2 separate regions of the Homo sapiens genome follow, and region 1 is linked to region 2. Evidence: fine-mapped expression QTL. A gene starts in region 2. The other region holds a variant in brackets. All regions are shown on one strand. Distances are between the middles of the regions.

Evidence for each region. PIP is the estimated chance that this variant, and not a neighbour inherited with it, causes the effect.
Region 1: its variant is fine-mapped to the expression of ESR2 in atrial appendage (GTEx, PIP 0.97).

Annotation. Positions count from the first base shown.
Region 1 is chr14:64,231,532-64,241,567 of GRCh38, reverse strand. It overlaps ESR2 (estrogen receptor 2), which reads left to right. Exons shown (of 9, transcript NM_001437.3): 8 at 6,418-6,598; 9 at 8,245-10,036. The coding sequence ends at 8,431. LOC124903328 (a long non-coding RNA gene) reads right to left here. Exons shown (of 2, transcript XR_007064205.1): 2 at 6,381-6,706. Among named protein-coding and RNA genes, the nearest start is that of ESR2, 58 kb to the left of the region's middle. RefSeq lists enhancers at 5,455-5,724, 6,365-6,424, 9,088-9,157. The variant C/A (reference allele first, on the strand shown) is at 4,693.
Region 2 is chr14:64,289,369-64,299,404 of GRCh38, reverse strand. ESR2 (estrogen receptor 2) reads left to right here and starts at 5,034. Exons shown (of 9, transcript NM_001437.3): 1 at 5,034-5,372.

The sequences.
Region 1 (10,036 bases), 58 kb after region 2:
GAGAGATGTTAATGGATCATAAGATTCAGTATTGTTTTCAATCTATAGATTCAAACTGATAAAAATCCCAGGAGGCTTTTTGGTAGAAATTGATAAGCTGATTCTTAAAATCATGTGAAAATGCAATGGACATAGAATAGTCAAAACAACTTTGAAAAAGAACAAACTGGGAGGACTTACACTACCTGATTTAGAAGATAATGTGGTATTGATGTCAACAGAAACAAATAGATCAATGGAACAGAGAGTCCAGAAATAATCTATACAACTACAGATGTTCCTCAATTTATGATGGGGTGATTTCCCAAAAAACCCATCTTAAGTTGAAAATATTGCTAGTCAAAAATATACTTAACACACCTAACCTACTGAACATCATAGCTTAGCCTAGCCTATCTTTTTTTTTTTTTTTTTTTTTTTTTGAGACGGAGTCTCGCTCTGTGGCCCAGGCGGGAGTGCAGTGGCGCAATCTCGGCTCACTGCAAGCTCCGCCTCCAGGGTTCACGCCATTCTCCTGCCTCAGCCTCCCCAGTAGCTGGGACTACAGGCGCCCACCATCACGCCCGGCTAATTTTTTTTGTATTTTTAGTAGAGACGGGGTTTCACCGTGTTAGCCAGGATGGTCTCGATCTCCTGATCTCGTGATCCGCCCGCCTCGGCCTCCCAAAGTGCTGGGATTACAAGCGTGAGCCACCGCGCCCGGCCAGCCTAGCCTATCTTAAATGTGTTCAGAATACTTACATTACCCTGCAGTTGGGCAAAATCATCTAATATAAAGCCTATTTTATAATACAGTAATGAACATTTCATGTAATTTATGGAATACTGAAAGTTACTGTACTGAAAAACGAAAAAACACAATGGTTGTATGTGTACTGGAAGTACAGTTTCTACTGAATGCAAAAACTTGCAGCTGAGTGTGTTCATTATCTTGGTTGTGGTGATGGCTCCACCATGTATATGTATGTCAAAGTACATCAAATCGTACACGCAAAATATGTGCAGGTTATTGCATGTCAGGTATACCTGGATGAATCTGTAAACAATGTAATGAAAGCAAAACAAAAAGATTAAGAGAGCAAAGTTTGTAGGCTAAATGGAAAAGAAATACCACCAAGCGGGGAACCAAATCACAGGGTGGAGGCCCTGGAGGATAAGGGTCAGGAGAGGAGAAATGGGGGTAGGTCTCTTAAGTCAAAAGGCTGCGAACTTCTCTATTCCATGTTAGGATAGCAGAGTTTCCAAGCGCTGCATTTGGTTGCTGCTAGATGGCCTTGCCAGGCTAGATAAGCATTGGGCTGTCTGACGATGGTCTCCTGCATAGTTTGGTCTCCTGTTTTCCTGTGTATGTGACATGCTTAAGTTAGGATTATGTCACTCAATCACATCTGCAGTGGTACAGCACGCTAGCTGGCCAGGTCGCGGTTTGTCAGTAGTCATGTTTTAAAAGCTGCCCATTTCTGGGTTATGCATATCTACTAATAATGGCTATAATATGGAATGGAAATTAACTGTGTCATCCAGCTAAATTTCAGCTCAGTTTCTGGTATGTATATTAATGACTTCTAAATACTAAGGATGTCAAAATGATTTAGATATAATGCTTTTGGTCTAGAATGGGATATATACTCAAATAGTTAATCAAAGGTCTGATCCATGGTGGGCTTAAGTGGAGAGGCACATATTTCTCTCTTGGGGAGGCAAGGGAAAGGACCACAACATTCTAACTCTCTCAGCCAATCCTCTTCCACTATGCATATATAGGTTGTGTGGTACTTGGAATTCCTGTATCATACTTAGCCTTTGATATGGCTCTTGAGAGTAAGAGACAACAGAAAAATGTTGCATTTAACAACCTGTTACAATGCTTGTTAGAGTGTTTTTATAAACTCTAAGGTGTTATGCAAGTGTCATAGTTAATAAAATAGCCTACCCAACACCCAACAGACAGACTGGCCATCTTGCCACCCAAATCCTCCCTTGGATAGAATTAGAGGGGGTATGGAATTTAGGAATTAGAGTGTAATTAATTACATTGATTATCCATAGTCTTTAAAATATTTTAAATTAGAAACAAGTCTATTTAAACAGTTTTAAGATTTACAAAGGATGAAACTTTTCATTAAATGAAAGAAATAGAGGGGTTAAGCCAGGAAATCCTATTTTACATTAAGAAAATTATTAAGAGACACTGGCTTAAACCCTAGTTCCCTCTGAGTTTATAGGGAGAGTTCCCATGGAGTGGGTGGGTGGAGAAGACAAAGACATAGATGGATGCTGATGAGGAAAGATGCGGGGGTCCTTTTCTGTTGACCAAGAACACTGGGGCAAAGCACAGTTGAACAGCAGCCTGCAGCCTCACACCATGGCACCTTTTGAGTCCCATCTGCCCTCATGTGCTGGGGGCAGGAGGTGGTGACAGAGGGCGTGGGTCATGGCCAGAGGTTCCTTTCCTCAAAGCAAACAAGCAAACGCCACATACGGCTCCCCAAAGCCAGGACTTCTTCCCTTTGGTCAGTATTCTGGGACTTCTATTAGCACATTAGATTTTTCTCATTTATTTGCCTTCAGTCAAGGAAAGCTTATGTTTTCATCCTTTGAACAAATCAGACGTGGCAAATCTTGAAGGAGAGGTGGCTGTCCCCCACCACTGTGCTGCTCAGAATGTCACCAGGTGGGCTGGTGAGAGGAGCACACAGCTGTTCCCAGCTGATAAAGGGGAGAGAAGATTGTGTCCTTGATTTTATTTCACTTTCTTTGGTATGTGTGAGGCATGGTGCCAAGATCTTGGTTTTTTTTGTTTTTTTTTTTTAAACTATACTTCTTCCGTTTCATCAAAAGTAATTTAATTTTGTTTTACAGTGAATCCTAACTGATGTTTTTACTTTTGGGGGATGGAGAGGGTGCTATATTTTTGTGGTTTTCTGTGCCTGACTGGGCAGAGCTTTGGATCTTGTCCCTTGCCCCATGCTGCCCAGGGCCTGCCACTTAGCAAGTACTCTGTAGATATGTATTTGATGAGCAAGGGCCTGAGCATGGATGTCTGAGGTGCAGGCACGCACTGCTGACTGGAGAGCCAGGCAGCAGCATGGGTATTCTTCAGCACAGTTCTTTTCTGGGAGGGTATTTCTTTTCTATGTGATCAATGAGAACAGGAGTCTCCAGGATAATTTTATGTAAGTCAGTCTTTTTGTATATACACTGCCCCCCTACCCCACCATATGTAAAATGGATTTCGCATATGCCTTTCCACAACTGCAGTGCCTCACCTCCCCAAACCGCTGTGGCTGATGGACTCTGGGCCCCAGGTGGAGCTGTGCTGCCCCTACAGCCTGCAGAAGGCCCAGGGTCTGGCCTTGGCAATGACTGTGGTTCGTGAAGTGGGTAACACAATGACACATACGTGTTCTCTGAGGGGAAACTTCGTTGCACACAGCCCAGGGAATTTATGTTATTGTAACTTTGGTTCTGAGGCGTTCTTTTATTATTATTATTACTATTATTTTTAGTAACAGCTTTATTGTGATATAATTCATTTACCATATAATTTATCCATATTAAGTATACAGTTCAATGTTTTTAGTTTATTCACGGTATGTGGTGCAACCATCACCACCATCAATTTTAGAACATTTTCATCACCTGAAAAGAAACCCCATGCTTCTTAGCCATCATTTCCCACTCCCTATCCCACCCACAGCCCTAGGCAACCACTAATTTGCTTTTCTGACTCTATGGATTTGCCTATTCTAGACATTTTATTATAAATGGAATCATACAACATGTGGTCCTTTGTGTCTGGCTTATTTTGCTTAGCCTGATGTTTTCAAGGTTCATCTGTATCAGTACCTCATTCCTTTTCGTAGCTGAATACTATTCCACTGTATGGATAGACCACATTTTGTTGAGCCATTCGTCAGTTAGTGGACATTCCACTTTTAGGCTGAGTTATGCTGCTATGAACATTTGTTTATAATCTGAGGATTTGTTTTTATATTTTCAATCTTTGTCACTTTGAACTGAGACATGTACAGGCACACAATTTTGGCTCCTTTTGGAATTCCCAGACATAGTATTGCTTGATGGCAGCGGAAGTCCATGGAGCACATGTCATGCAGCTGAACACACTACGGGGTAGTTAAAAGGAAGTACTTGTTTATGCAGATGGGGTTAATTTTAGGGAAAGTAAGCTTGAAATAATTTTCTCTGTACTTTTGATAATTTTCTGTGTGTACCTAAAACATACATTAGCATGCATATTTACCATTTCAAATATGATGTGTGTTTGGCTAAAAAAAATAAGGGTCTGGCCGGGCACAGTGGCTCACGCTTGTAATCCCAGCACTTTGGGAGGCTGAGGCAGGCGGATTGCGAGGTCAGGAGTTTGAGACCAGCCTGGCCAGCATGGTGAAACACTGTCTCTACTGAAAATACAAAAAATTTGCTGGGCATGGTGGCGCATGCCTGTAATCCCAGCTACTAAGGAGGCTGAGGCAGGAGAATTGCTTGAAACCGGGAGGCGGAGGTTGCAGTGAGCTGAGATTGTACCACTGCACTCCAGGCTGGGTGACAGAGTGAGACTCTGTCTCAAGAAAAGAAAAAAAAAAAAAGGTCTGTGCCCTCAAAGCACTCATGTCCAGTCTTGCTGAGGGCAGAAGGGTGGCTGTGGGGTGTGTGTGGGGACAAGGCAGA[C/A]ATCCAGCATGTGGGGCAACATGGTGTCTCTGCTGAGGATGAACAGGGCACTGTCAGAGTATCAGGGGACACCTCAGACCAGACTTAGGGTGGGATGGTAGGGAGGTTGGGGGAAGCTTCCAGAAGGAATTTCTGACCAGGTTGGAATCTACAGGAGGAATGGGTATAAATGAGCAAAAGAATCAGGGTAGAGAAAGAGGAAGGAGAGAGTTTCCAAGCAGCAAGTTGAGCATGTTCGGAGCACCACACATTCAGGGAGTTGAGAGGGGGACTCAAGGCGAGGTGTGGTGGGAACTGCAGATGAGAGAAGCGGGGAGGGCCCTGGTACCTCTGATAGCTGCACCAGGTGGTTTGGACTCTATCCTATGAGCTGGGAAGTCATTAAACGGAGCCCCATGAGCAGATCTGCTTTTTGGCCTCTCAGAAGGGGACACACGGGGCCAAGGGTGGGGTCTTGTTTCCCCTGCGGTGGGAGGGCAAGTCATCTCTGGGGCGACAGTGGGAGGTTTGAGGCTGTGGGGGGATTCTGGAAGAACCAATGTGGAGAACAAAGTGAGCACAGGGATTGGAGAAGCAGCTTCAGGGCTATTGAAAAGATGAATATTTTAAATTCGTATCATCAGACATTATGGAGGTCCCTAGGGATGTGGCAAAGCACTACACTTACGTAATTGTGCTTCAGAATGTCCCTTGCCTTACCTGAGTTAAACTTAGTTGAATTGAGCTGCCTTAATTGAACTGAAAGTGCCAATAAAAATAGAGAACAAAAACTGCCAAAACAAATTCTGTGGTTGCTGGAGCACCAGCCATCATCAGTCTCATGACAGCCAAGACTCAGCAGCTCCCTGGTTGATTTCACATATTTATTCTTGCTTTGAAATGGAAAGCCTGGAAGAGAAGCTAATTATTAAAGGGAATCAAGGAGTCAGGCAGGGGTCGGGGGGAGGAGATTTATCTGAGCTGTTACTTTGCTGCCATTGGGATGCCACAGTATCTCAATCCTAGAGTTGGAGGGGAGTTAAACACAGGGCAGGGCAGGATGGGGGAGGCAGCCTACCCAGGACGTGGCTGTGGGGACCTAAGCAGATGTGTTCCTGCATGCGTTGCTCAGTGAGGAACTGAGGCTCAGAGAGCTCCAGATGGTGGCTAGAAAGTAGGTCTGTCTGACTCCAAATCAGTGGTCTTCCTGCCCCAGCCAGGTGCCACTCAAGCGAGATGCAGAGGTGGTAGCAGGGGCCCTGCCATGGCTGGCTGCGGCACGTGGTACACACAAGGAGGTGGCAGAGGAGGCTTCATCACATTGGCCATTCCTTTGTTTATTAAACTCCCTTTAGATGGGGAGCCCTCCGTGGGGCTAAAAGTAGAATTAATCTCACTTTCTGACCATCTCTGTATCTGTTGCTGCAGATGAGAAACACCACGTAATGATTTCGGGAGACTAGATATACTCGCCACGGCAAGGCCACAATTATGGGCCTGGTGGACACTTCAGGTGGCAATTTAGTCTGTCTGCATTAGGCCAGGCTTCTCTTCTAGCTCTGTGACGGGGCTGGCTCTCAGGGAAGATCCCCTGGGGGAGGTAAGACCATGCTTATAAGCTCCTGCCACACATGCAGCTGTCAAAGCAACCCAGATCACCTCGGAGCAGGCGCACGGAACAGCTGAGCACACGACTTCTGCTCCTTTGCTCAGAGCAATGACTTCTGGCTTTTATTCTTTGTCCAGGTATGTACCCTCTGGTCACAGCGACCCAGGATGCTGACAGCAGCCGGAAGCTGGCTCACTTGCTGAACGCCGTGACCGATGCTTTGGTTTGGGTGATTGCCAAGAGCGGCATCTCCTCCCAGCAGCAATCCATGCGCCTGGCTAACCTCCTGATGCTCCTGTCCCACGTCAGGCATGCGAGGTACGCGCCCTAAGGAGCTGCTCTGCTTGGGCTTGGGATGGGATTATGTGCTCCACGGAGGGTGAAGTGATTTGGGAAAAGTGTCTGCAAGTTAAGGAAAATGAATGCCTGAAAGGGAATGGGGAATTTGTCAGTTCACACACCTGTAAGCAAAGATGGGCACAGAGTGGGCATGGAAGGAATGTCATGTGGTATCTTACAGGCTCTGCATGGCAGCCAGTGGTGGCTCATGGGTTTTTCAATTGCTGGGGTTTATAGCCTGTTTATGGAGTCCTAAAAGGGGCAGTTCCTCCCCTAACACGAACTGCCACCCCTGTTTACACCACCCAGGGCTGAGGCCCTGAGGCCACTTTTTGTGGAGAGGCTAAGACCCGCTCCCCTAGATGGCCCCTCGAGCTGGTGATGCGAAGAAGTGCACAAATGCTTCCCTAAGAGTTGTTCTTTCGGTGGCATCAGGAAATTAAGGATAAGACTTAAGAGAAGTGGTGGACCCAGCAGATTTAGGAAGGCAGGGCTGTAGGTAGGGCATGTTTCTGATCAGGAAACGTAATTGTGTGTGCTGATGAAGAGGGTGTGCAGTGGTGGCTACTGTTGGTACAATGATGCTCAGTGCTTGGTGTCACCCACGATGAGGGTAGCCTTGCCCTGGAGCTGGAGGAGGGGAGGGGAGGGTGGAAGGTAATTAACTGGTCACTGAGGAGGCAAGTCTAGAGGCTGTGGAGAAGGACAATATACACCTCGAGAATCTTAAGTGAGATGAAGACCTCTGCCTTTCCCCTTTAATGATTGCTCAGCACATAGCCATTTGCAGAACAGATCCTGTGTTTGTAGATTCCTTCATTGTGAATTTATCTGCTTGCTAAAATTTATTTGTAACCCCAAAATCAATATTTGTGGTGTTTTTGAGGTCATGAACAGAGTGGCAGAAATTTTGAGTTGCCCTTTATGTACAGTCCCAGCTGAGATGGAACAAGCAGCTGCTCTCATACTGTCAACAAGTGTCCTTTACTTGGTCTACTTAGTGCCATGGTTTTACATTTTTGTGCTTTTGGTGACTTCACTGTTTAAAATGCCCCCCTGGTGTGGTGCTGAAGACCTGTCTAGTGTTCCTCGGTGTGAAAAAGCTGTGATGTGCCTTATGGAGAAAGTATGTGTTAAGCTTTGCTCGGGTGTGAGTTATAGTGCTGCTGGCCATGAGTTCAATGTTAATGAGTCAATGGTATTTATCACATAAGGCATCTTTAGAAAGAAACACACATAAAACAAGGTTTTGTATTGATCAGCTGATGAAGATGTGGCCAGAGGCTTGCAGGAACCTAACCCTGTATTTCCCCTATGAGTGAGGATTCAGTGTTCACAGTGACTTTACGGAACATAATTACCGCAAACAATGAGGATTGATTGTCCTATGTGTCAGGCCATTGTAGGTGTGTGGTGGGACACAGAGGCTGACAAGACATCGTCCTTGCCCTTGAGCCTAAATTATCAGGGGGAGCTGGATGCACGAGCCATGGATAAATGGGCTGGGGGAAGAGTGGGTTTAGGGGTGGGGTAGACTGGCTCTGAGCAAAGAGAGCCGGGGAAGGCTTCGGGGTTCCTGTGGCTGCCTCGGAGGAGGGAATCTCAGCACCTTTTTGTCCCCATAGTAACAAGGGCATGGAACATCTGCTCAACATGAAGTGCAAAAATGTGGTCCCAGTGTATGACCTGCTGCTGGAGATGCTGAATGCCCACGTGCTTCGCGGGTGCAAGTCCTCCATCACGGGGTCCGAGTGCAGCCCGGCAGAGGACAGTAAAAGCAAAGAGGGCTCCCAGAACCCACAGTCTCAGTGACGCCTGGCCCTGAGGTGAACTGGCCCACAGAGGTCACAGGCTGAAGCGTGAACTCCAGTGTGTCAGGAGCCTGGGCTTCATCTTTCTGCTGTGTGGTCCCTCATTTGGTGATGGCAGGCTTGGTCATGTACCATCCTTCCCTCCACCTTCCCAACTCTCAGGAGTCGGTGTGAGGAAGCCATAGTTTCCCTTGTTAGCAGAGGGCACATTTGAATGCAGCGTTTCCACACTCAATGGCCTCATAGGATCTCAGTGTGGTCTTTCTTACTTTCCTTCTTCCTTCCTCCCCTTTGTGAAACATCTTAAAGGTTTTGGAATGAATGGTGGAAATCTGACTTGGAAGGGCTGCGAATCAGAAAGGGGAGAGGAAGTGACACGCTTACAGAAGTGGGCTAACCCTTCTTGTGTGGCACACACTACCCTTCCCTCTGAGAGTTGACCTTTGCTGTTTTCCGGACCACTCCATTGTAAGATTGAAAACCCCTGTGGCAATTGCGTACTTACCTCCCAGGCCTGTGGGGACTGATCATATCATATGATGCTTATTCTGTCAAAGGCCAGAGGGACTGTGGTTAAGCTGGGATGTGAGTCATGTTCTCTCCCTGACCTTGCTGCCAGCTGCACACAGATTTGTCCCTCTCGATTTGTATTCACAGAGCCTGCCAATAATTTGGGGTATGTGTGTATGAGCGTGTGATCATTTTCATGCAGGACTGTGGGAGATACAAATCTCGCTGCTTCTGGAGCTGCTCTTCCTTAAACCTGTTGTCCCATGGGGCCAGCGTGGGTGCTGGAGAAAGGCCGTGTTTGCAGGAATGGGGTTCTCTCCTGTGGGTGTGGGTGACAGCCACAGTGTTTCCCTGGGGCAATGTGGATGCAGTTTCCATCTTGTACAACCTCATAAGTAGCAGCCACAATTGCCCCATCAGTCACCACAAGTAGTCAGGGATACTTTGGGCTGTGGATGTGTGCAGTGTGCTGTTTTATGGATGGATGAGTAGCTATGCACCCCAGTGTGTCAGCTCTGGGGCCACACTGTATAGCCTTGATGAGTACGCCCCTTGAACAAGACCCAGTTTGTGAACTCTCCTTAAAGAGAAATATTTAGGGATAATTATTTATAGCAAGAAAGAATTCTTTTACACTTGAGAGCTCTTTTAAAAATATTTTCTTATTGGAAAATTTATATGGTGGGCAGGGTGAAAAAGAAACAGTAAAAATATTAGTTCTTATTCCAAGTGGAACATAAATAGGACATGAAGAAGGGCACCTCTGAAATGACAACTTTAACTCACCTTTTAAAAGATGTGAAATTTCCAGTTTTGGATACACGGTGAATATGTAAAATGAGTAACAGCATACTATGGAAGCCAGCAATTAAATAATCATGTTTCATTATTGCAGTAACGTTTTAAACAATTACCTTGTGATATGATATTAAATATATTTTCTTTTTGAAAATATGTTCACTTTGGGTAGCACATCCTGTATTTACTAAGTCATTAGGAAGACTGCATTCAGTGTTACCAAGACTGGTTTTTGCTAGTAAGACCTCGAATAATCCATAATTTTGATATTGGTGCAATTTTACTATAAGTTGAGCTT
Region 2 (10,036 bases):
AAAAAGCTATTTCTGTAATGAGCATCACTGGAGAGTTAGTTGCTATGGGTCTAAAGGACAATATGAGGCAGTTATAGTAACTTTCCATGATATGAACAAAGAAATTGAAAATGTTAGATACATTTACAAGAAGATGTAGAAAAAACTTTAGTCAAAATTTTTGAAATATTTTTTGAAATATTAAACTATGAAATCAGACAGTCTTATCTATGGTCTCAAGCCATGTCTGTCTGTACCTTTTTTTTTTTTATCTCATTTCAGGGAATATTACACTGGCTGACTTATTAATATCTTCTGAGCCAGAAAATGTAAGGAAGCTGCATTTTCAGAATTGCATTTGAGTCATTTGTGAAATTGCATATTACAATTTGCCGCCATTTCTAACAGTCCTATAACTTTTTTTTTTTTTTTTCTTAACTGGGTGTTCACATTCATGCCAATGACCTCTAGGGGCTAGTTTCTCTTCTAGCTCAAGAGAATTGCTGCAGAGTTGGAAGTAAGGACAAAAATGTGTATGCTTCATGTTTGATTTCAAATGCATAGAAAATTAGAAACTTAAGGTATGCAAGGGATTTGTGTGGAATTTAAGTACCTTTGAGGGGCAGTGGACAGGACAAAAAGTTATTTTTTACCTGTTTGTTTACAAATAGCAAAGATCAAGACTGAAACACATGAGTGTGATTTAGAAAGAGTTGGCTGCAGGTGCTGCTTGCTCAGGTGGTTCATTTAAACTGCAGGTCAGAGCAACCTTGTCTCATGGTCCTGGTGCCCAGGTATCAGGTTGGGTCTGTCTTGCTGCTTATGTCCTTGTTACCCTCTGAGGGCCCCAGTCCAACGCAGATCAATAAAGAATAAGTTACATAAATATGCTCATAGGTGGTCATTCCTAGACAAGAAATTGACAACATTTCATTCAACAGTATCTGGGCTCTACAGGACAGACATGCCTCCATTTATGCAACAAATAAGAACAGCATCTCATGACAGTGGAGAAAACATGGGATGTGCAGGTAGGTAGGTAAAGTTGGGTGGAAACTTTCACCCTACCAAATGCACATGGGTGACTTTATAAAATAAATGTTAGCTCTCTGAGCCTCAGTTTTCCCATCTGTAAAATAGACAGTCCCAGGGAATTTTCAAGGATTAAATGAAATAAAAGTGAATCAACCTATGCAAGCCTGCCTACTGTGGTGTCCAGGCTAGAAAAATGCTCAATAAATATTAGGTTTGTTTTTATTTCTACAAAAGATGTGATCCTAAAGAGCTCTATCCAAATTCAAGTTTCAAATGTCAAATCACATTTTGTGAACTTTATGTTCAGTTGAGATGATCTCTGACATATTAATTAGTAATCCTATCTTTTTCATTCATCACCACCAAAAAAAGGTGTTATTGCACGTTCAATTAATCTTTCCCCTTTATTAATTCCATAAGTGTAGGGTTTTATCTCTCAGATTCTCTTAAAACAGACCAATTTATACCCACATAATATAAATAAGCTTGTTCCTATAACACTCTGGAGCAGATAACTATCCCAGAACCCAAATCCTCCTACTTGGCTTCAAGCTCAGAGAATAAAGCAACAATCCAAAGGCACCCTTTGGCATGACACCCTTCTAGACATCTGTAGCATTCCTCCTTTCCCTCCACTTTTCCTATTAGCTTTTGCTTTCTTGCCTTTTACAGGGTTTTGTTTTGCCTCTTGGTAGTTTCTTTCCTACGGAAAATTCTCCCTCTGATCTTTCCAAGTCAAAGGCTTCAGCAAACATTTGTTGAACGCGTGGATTGTGCTAGGTGGGTGTTATGGACCATGGAGAATGCTAGAGATGTAAGACATGCGCTGTCCAATCGCAGCGCAGGTTGTGTTGACAGGTAAGATGAGGGCTGTGGGGGAGCCAATGTGCACGTTCCACTGGGCTAATGTGCTCTTCACCTTATTTAGGCTCTTGGCTTTGGGATGTGTAAGACTTTGCTAGACAGAGAAGGGGTGGGGTGAGAAGATGAGGAAGGTGCACCTTTTATGGAGAGGCTTTCCTTCCTCTTCACAGCAAACCATACCTGTACTACATTGACTTCCTTTGCTTTCCCAGGTGACATCTAGCTCATGCTGCAAGCTCATCTTGTTAATCATAAATGCTAGTAAGTTAATATTACCCATCATATATAACATGACTTAATTTTAACAATTCAATGCTTTATCCCCAAAAGATGACTTAATGGTGACAATTTCAATCCCCATTGTAGGATATTTTGGAGACAGGCAGTCCTTTCAATGTCATATGTGGGTGCTTCCTTAGGCAGGTCAGGGGTGAGGTGGAAATGAGGCTGGGACCCTGCTCACTTATATAGCAGGCATCGTTCTCAATACCAGGCTTCAGGGGGCTTTTTGGTCTAGCCATTGGTATGAACTGCCTCAAGAATAATCCCTTCATCATTGTGGTCACAATTCAGGTAGAATTGGAATAATCATCCTCTCCACTCTGCATTAAACCAGGCAAAGTTTCCATCTCTGGGTACCATTGTCTTTCTTGATGGACAGGGTGAGTCAGAAGGAAACTTACTCACTCCCATTCATTTTCTGCTTATTATTTCCTGCAGTGAGGTTTCCTTGTATAATAAACAGCTTCTGTGGGTGTTTGAGCTGCTCTGAAAAGAGAACATGCTGTTCCTGTGTGTAGAATGCCTTCTGAAGGAAGCATCACAGTGAACACAGAGCAGAAGCTTGGCACACAGGTGGCAGAAGTTTGTCTGCAGTGTTCTGCATAGAGCAGAGAGTCAAGCCATTTTCATTCTGATTGATTGGAGGCATGGTATGGAGGTAAATGGGTCCTTGGCCTCTCTCCTGGATTCAAGTCCTTCTTAGCCACTGATAGGTCATGTGACCATAGGGAGGTTGTTTAACCTTCCTGAACATTCATTTTCTCAAGTATAAAATGGGGGTAATAGAATTTGCCTTATAGGCTTGCGTATAAAATAAGAATTATTGAGAGAAAGCGGGGCATAAATGTCCAATAAGCGGTAGCTGTCTATGAAGCCACTGTTGTTACTGGGTTCCTTTCTCACTAGGTGGCTTCAGGTAGCTGACAGAAGCTCTGTGAGCCTCAATTTCCTCACTGGAAAAGTGGAGTCAATATCTCACTGAGCTGGTGTGAGGATTAAATGAGATGCTGTGCAGGTGCTTAGCACAGCGTCAGGTATGATGTTAATATTGATAGATGCATTTTCTTCACCCTCACCTATCTTTTTCTGCCTGTTGGCTTATGGTTGAAATTCCTTCATGACGGTTTCCATTTCCAGAGATATCTTGTTAACAAGTATATACCACCAAATGAAGCTGATTTTTTTTTTTTTTTTTTTTTTTGAGACAGAGTCTCGCTCTGTCGCCCAGGCTGGAATGCAGTGGCGCGATCTTGGCTCACTGCAACCTCCGCCTCCCATGTTCAAGCGATTCTCCTGCCTCAGCCTCCTGAGTAGCTGGGATTACTGGCATGTGCCACCACGTCCAGCCAATTTTTGTATTTTTAGTAGAGACGAGGTTTCACCATGTTGGTCAGGCTGGTCTCAAACTCCTGACCTCGTGATCCACCTGCCTCGGCCTCCCAAAGTGCTGAGATTATAGGTGTGAGCCACCATGCCTGGCCATGAAGCTGATTTTTTTAAACCATCATTTAACATTTTCTCCATAAGGTGGCAAGGAGGAAGAGCATATGGGGACTGGGTACTTTGAGAGACCCCAGGACAGGAGACAGGGAGGCTGAGATTGGCATGTTGTCTGCTGCAGTTATTTGCCAGCGACACACTCTTCCCGTCCAAACTAACTTCTCTGCCTCAAGGACAGGGAGACTCTGCCTTTCAACCTGAGAGAAACCAGGACTCTCAGCTTTAATGAAAATTGGACTTAGGGTGGGGCAGTGGAGACTTTTCACAGCTATTGTTTAGCTGATGAAGCAGATGCTTCTCCATCTTTGGAGCCTGTCTTCATTACCTGTGGACCTCATCTTTATCAACCCAGAGCACACTTGCGTCTCTCTATTTTGGCTAAACACCAAACAGCTGAGGCTGGTACTGTAAAACTTTCCCTCCAAATGCCCCCCCTCGTCTTCCTCTATTAGAGATCTGGATCACAACCCTCAAAAACCATGTCCCTTATGCCACCTGAGTAGATGGTTTGATGATTAATTAGGCACAGATGTGACACTGGGGGGTTCTCACAATGGCCTGTGGGTCACATGCTACTTTCCTTTTCATTTTCATCAGCAACAGCTGCCTTAAAGCCAGTTAAGACTGTGGTCCTAGTCTCGCACCCTGGGGCTCCTGCTGGGGTGGGTGAGGGGAACACCCCATTAAGCTGGGGGAACTGGGGCTGCCACCAGGGGGCGCGAGGGGCCTTCGCCCGAGAAGAGGGGTGGGCAGGTGCCTCCAGCGGAGAAGGGCGCCGTGGCCGGAGGCACAGGTCTCCCCGGTGCCACTTCAAGTGAGTTCGAGGAAGTACCTGGGATCTTTGATCTAACGCGAAAGGCCTTCCCAGTGACCTCTTGAGAGCTGAGAACCCACTCCCTCCACCTCTAGTCCACGGCTTTGCCACTCCAGGGCCCGAGGTTACGTTTGCTGCTGGGGATTTGACAAACCCAAAGCCTCTCTGGTTTCACCACTGGCTCCTTAGAATCAGACATCTGTTCTGAATGACACTTATGTGAGTCAGGGGCTGAGGACGTGATCCTCGAAGTGTGGTCCCCAGACTGGCTGTATCAGTGTCGGCATCCCCCAGGACCTGGTTGGAAATGCATATTCTCAGGCCCTACTCCAGACCTCTTAAATCTGAGACTGGGGCTGCGGGGAGCGCCATCTGTGCGCCACTATCCTTGTGGGTGGACCAGGAGTCGGTTCGAGGGTGCTCCCACTTAGAGGTCACGCGCGGCGTCGGGCGTTCCTGAGACCGTCGGGCTCCCTGGCTCGGTCACGTGGGCTCAGGCACTACTCCCCTCTACCCTCCTCTCGGTCTTTAAAAGGAAGAAGGGGCTTATCGTTAAGTCGCTTGTGATCTTTTCAGTTTCTCCAGCTGCTGGCTTTTTGGACACCCACTCCCCCGCCAGGAGGCAGTTGCAAGCGCGGAGGCTGCGAGAAATAACTGCCTCTTGAAACTTGCAGGGCGAAGAGCAGGCGGCGAGCGCTGGGCCGGGGAGGGACCACCCGAGCTGCGACGGGCTCTGGGGCTGCGGGGCAGGGCTGGCGCCCGGAGCCTGAGCTGCAGGAGGTGCGCTCGCTTTCCTCAACAGGTGGCGGCGGGGCGCGCGCCGGGAGACCCCCCCTAATGCGGGAAAAGCACGTGTCCGCATTTTAGAGAAGGCAAGGCCGGTGTGTTTATCTGCAAGGTAAGCGCCCCTTCGCTCGAGGTGTGGTTTAATTGTCTCATTTTGTTTGAAATCCTGCGGTGAGAAACCAGTCGTGTTGAGAACAATAAAAGACCAAAAAACGATCACCAAAACCAACTGTCCTGAAAGCTACTGGAAAGTTGGAAAATGCATGCTTTGATTAAATGTCTTCATTCAAGACACTGGCAAGTTAACTTATTTAGTTTGTGCCGTGAGCTCTGGGTTGATTGTGCTAATATGAATAACTGAAAAACATTTTATTTCCCTATGGTTTTCCTCGATGGACTTCCCCACTATGGGTGAAATGACAATGGAGTTGAATACACTTTCTGATTGAACTTTGAGGGCCTGGGAAGATGTACACGTCTCAGGCAAGATGATAGGGGTTTTAAAATGTATTAATTGGCATTCCTTAGCCATGTCAGCAAGCTGCGTTCCTCCTTTCCTGGGCAGACCAAGCTAAGCTCTAACTGGTCTCCTTTATTTGCTGAAGAGGAGTCCAACAACTGCCCTCTAACACCCTGCGTGTTATTCTTATTGGAAGGACAATATTAAGTCAAGTGAATGTCATTTTTGTGAAAAAACTTTGAGTGGACTTCTATTTAGGAAGATAAGGTTGATTTAATTTTACTCGCTGTTTAAAAAGCAGGATTGTGTTTTGGTGTGGTAGGCAACATTTTGGAGGACAGACTTTGCCTTATTTTGTTATATTTCTAGTATTTACATGGGCATTCCATTAGAAAGTTTTACTTTTGCTCTAAGTTTCGTAACTCGGTGTCTAGTGAGGGGAAACATGTTTGTAATTTAAAAAGTGAACATGTGAAAGGAAAGGCTTTTCTGAGAGTGTTGTAAAACAAATGTAACGTGACTATGAAAAGAACATGATTAACATCTTTGACTCCTATTTTTTCTGAAGAAAATGTATTTTGATATGAGTTCTAGAAGAAGGAAACTATAAGGATCTGTTCATCAACAGGCATTAGAGTATACACCGTAGGATTGCATTTTACGTTCAAGCATTTTTTTAGATGAATTTCTGAAACATTCTTATTTTAAAAGCCATCAGATGCTTGTTAACACTTAAGTCTTGCTCAAGACATAGAAGTTTCTGAAATCAATTAACATGTTTAGGACACATTTCGTAGTGTTCTGAGGGATGTGAATAAATCTAATCACAGTTTACATTTCTTAATGTATTTATAATTCAGAAAAGGTAGAATTTAGTAGTAAATTCAACTCATAACCATATAATTAACATTTAATAGATATTGATATGTTCACTTTTAAGAATAAGAAGGAAATTTTCTATAAGTGTATGTTGAACACATAATAATTCAAAATTCATGTGATAATTTTAGGTGATGCTTTGAGTCGTTTTATAGAATATAAATATGGATAAAATATAAAATACTGAAGGCTGAACTCAAAGTGTTTAATGATAAGTTTTTGATAATACATCTAGAAACCTTGAGAATTGTATGCTTGAACGTTAGATTTCATAATTCAGTGTCTAGCACATTGTTTTATATGCAATAGCACTTTAAAAAAATTAGGCTACAGCAGTATAATTTACATACAGTAAAATTTAGCCTCTGTAAATGTACCTCTATGAATTCTGACAGATGCACAGTCATGTAACCAGCACCGCACACATGACACAGAACAGTTCCATTACCCCAAAAGTCCCCTTTGTACCTCTACCTACCCCACTGCCCCTGAAAATCACTGATCAAAACTACATAATGATTATGTGGTTTTGCTCTTTAGTACGTTTTTACTTAGACATATTTTCCTTTACTTCTTTTGAAAGAAAAACCTGTTTTTCCCTTTTTATAGGATGAGTCAGTTTGTGCTATTTTTAATTCTAGTACCTTGGGATAAATCAAGGCAAAGACAATGCTATTTGCAAATGGGAAACTTGAGACTTGGACTAAGTGTTAAATTCATATAGGGCTAATAGATTTAGTTCTTAGCAGATTTAGATTCTATTGTGGTTTAAGCCTTTGGTTATGGCATATATCATTAGTTATCCTGAATTGAAATACAAGGCCATTAAAAGTTATTTATATCATATTAATAGAATGCATCATTCTTTTATAATCTTTGAATTTTAAAACTTCTTTATTAAAAAAAAAACTACTTTTCATTATACCTGAGATTAAGAAAGCTACCTGAAATTGCATATTATCAAATAGTGAGAAGCAAAACAGGGATTGAAAATGACAAATTGAAGACATTTAAAATGCAGAGTGATTACAATTGCTGAAGGTAAAATATTTATCTTCATAGGGGCTTAGGTCTGTGTCCAACTTATTTGTAGATGTCAGGATTTTTAAATTTCTGTGCTCATGTCTTGAAGTCTAGATTTTCCTGCAGGGTGGAGATGTATAACCTTTTGTAAACTAATATTTTTCACTGTTTAACACAGTATTCAATTCAGTATACAGTTAGGAGCCTGTTATTGGTAGGTACTGCTAACATATATATATATAAAATTGATGTCTTTTTCCTTTTTCCTTTGTTCTATGAAAAACAGCCTGTATTTTAAATATGTAACTTACCTTGCATACCCAGTTACAGTGGTAGTAACTAGGATATGCAGAGTGGCAAGTTTATGAGGAGCTAGCAAACTGGATAGTTGGCCTTCCTAGCTGGAATTATGACAGGTCTTGAAAATGAAGGGCTTTTAGTGGAGAATCTTTGTGTGGGTGTACTTGAGAGAGGGCAGGAGAGTTAGGGTGACCTAGAAAGATAGATTGCTGGACTTGTATATGTTTCCTCAAAGCCAGACTGCAGCATTTTGTTAGTAAATTGTTGTGTGTTCTACTGTCAAACCCAGGCCTGGAAGGGGAGTTGAGTGCATTCAGCCTAACTTCTGGATTGGCTGTGTCATCTTGAATCCCTTCACTCGGAATTCTCTCTGACCCTGTCCCAAATGAATATTTGAATTTGGTCCAGTTCCTACAGAGCATGGTCTGTGGCTGTTGTTGGTGTTAGGGAAGAGCAGAAACTTGCTGTTGAGAGAGAAGACACTTGAGAAGACTGATGAACTCTCTCCCACCCCTGCCTTCGAGGCTTGGTCCTCCTACCCTATTCAAACCCTTGAAACTCTTTCCTATCCAACTAAATAAGCGCCAATTGGTTACTAGGAGAATTAGCTTTTCCTCATTTTAGAAGGAAACAGGGTTTCCTTATGTACATGTTCTTAAGAATTACATGCAAATCAGTTATTAATGATGAGTTCTCTGGTGATTTTGGAGTGTTTTATCTTCCTAATATTAAATTAATTGAGGGCCTTAATATTTTGTTTTGAAAGAATATATTTAAAAAGGCTGGGTGTGGTGGCTCACGCCTGTAATCTCAGCACTTTGGGAGGCCTAGGTGGCTGGATCACTTGAGGGCAGGAGTTCAAGACCAGCCTGGCCAAATAATGAAACCTTGTCTCTGTTAAGAATACAAAAAATTAGCTGGCCATGGTGGCTCAAGCCTGTAGTCCCAGCTACTCAGGAGGCTGAGGCATGAGAATTGCTTGAACCTGGGAGGCCGAGTTTACAGTGAGCCGCGATCATGCCACTGCATTCCAGCCTGGGCAACAAAGCAAAACTCTATCTCTAAATAAATAAATAAATAAATAAATAAGAATACATTTAAAGATAATAATTGGCCAGGTGTGGTGGTTCATGCCTGTGATCACAGCACTTTGGGAGGCCGAGGTGGGAGGATTGCTTGAGGCAAGGAGTTCAAGATCAATCTGGGCAACACAGTGAGACCCTATCTCTACAAAAATTTAAAAATCAGCTGGGCATGATGGTGCATGCCTTTAGTCCCAGCTACTTGGGGGGCTGAGTTTGGAGGATCCCTTGAGCCCAGGAGATCAAGGCTGCAGTAGGCCATGATCTTGCCACTACACTCTAGCCTGAGTTACAGAGCTAGAGTATAACCCCCACCCCCCAAAAAAGCTAATAATTGTCAAACAGCTACTTATGCACATCAAGGATGCTTGTTGCTTAAGAAATCTTTTTAAATCTTTTCCATGAAATTCCTTCTAGTTGCTGCTTTGTGAGCGTGAATTTTTTACTTCTGCAGGACACACAAATGTGGAGCATTTGAACTGAATGCTTGGGAAAGTGTGATGGGCAGGTGGAAGAAGAATAGGGATGAGGACTTATCCTCTATTCTTATCCTCCTAGACTTATCCTCCTAGTCTGCAAGCTTGAGAATATGGCATCAGGAATATGTGGCATTTTGTCCACACACACAGTGTTGGCAGGCTACCAGCAGCCCAGCTATCTGGACTAGGGGTGATGGATTTCTGTGGACAGAAGTCAAAAAGTAAAATTAGGAGGCAAAAATCTTCAGGGTGGCCATAAAGACATTGTAACTTGTCTGGAAATTCCAACCAACACTAAATGTGTATCCAGTGATATACCAATAGACTGGCTTCATCTTCTTGGATGTGTAATAATACCTTACAGAATGCTTTCTTTTTTTTTTTCTTTTTCTTTTTCTTTATTTTTTTTGAAATGAAGTTTTGCTCTTGTTGCCCAGGCTGGAGTGTAATGGCACAATCTCAGCTCACTGCAACCTCCACCTCCCAGGTTCAAGCGATTGTCCTGCCTCATCCTCCCGAGTAGCTGGGATTACAGGCATGTGCCACCATGCCC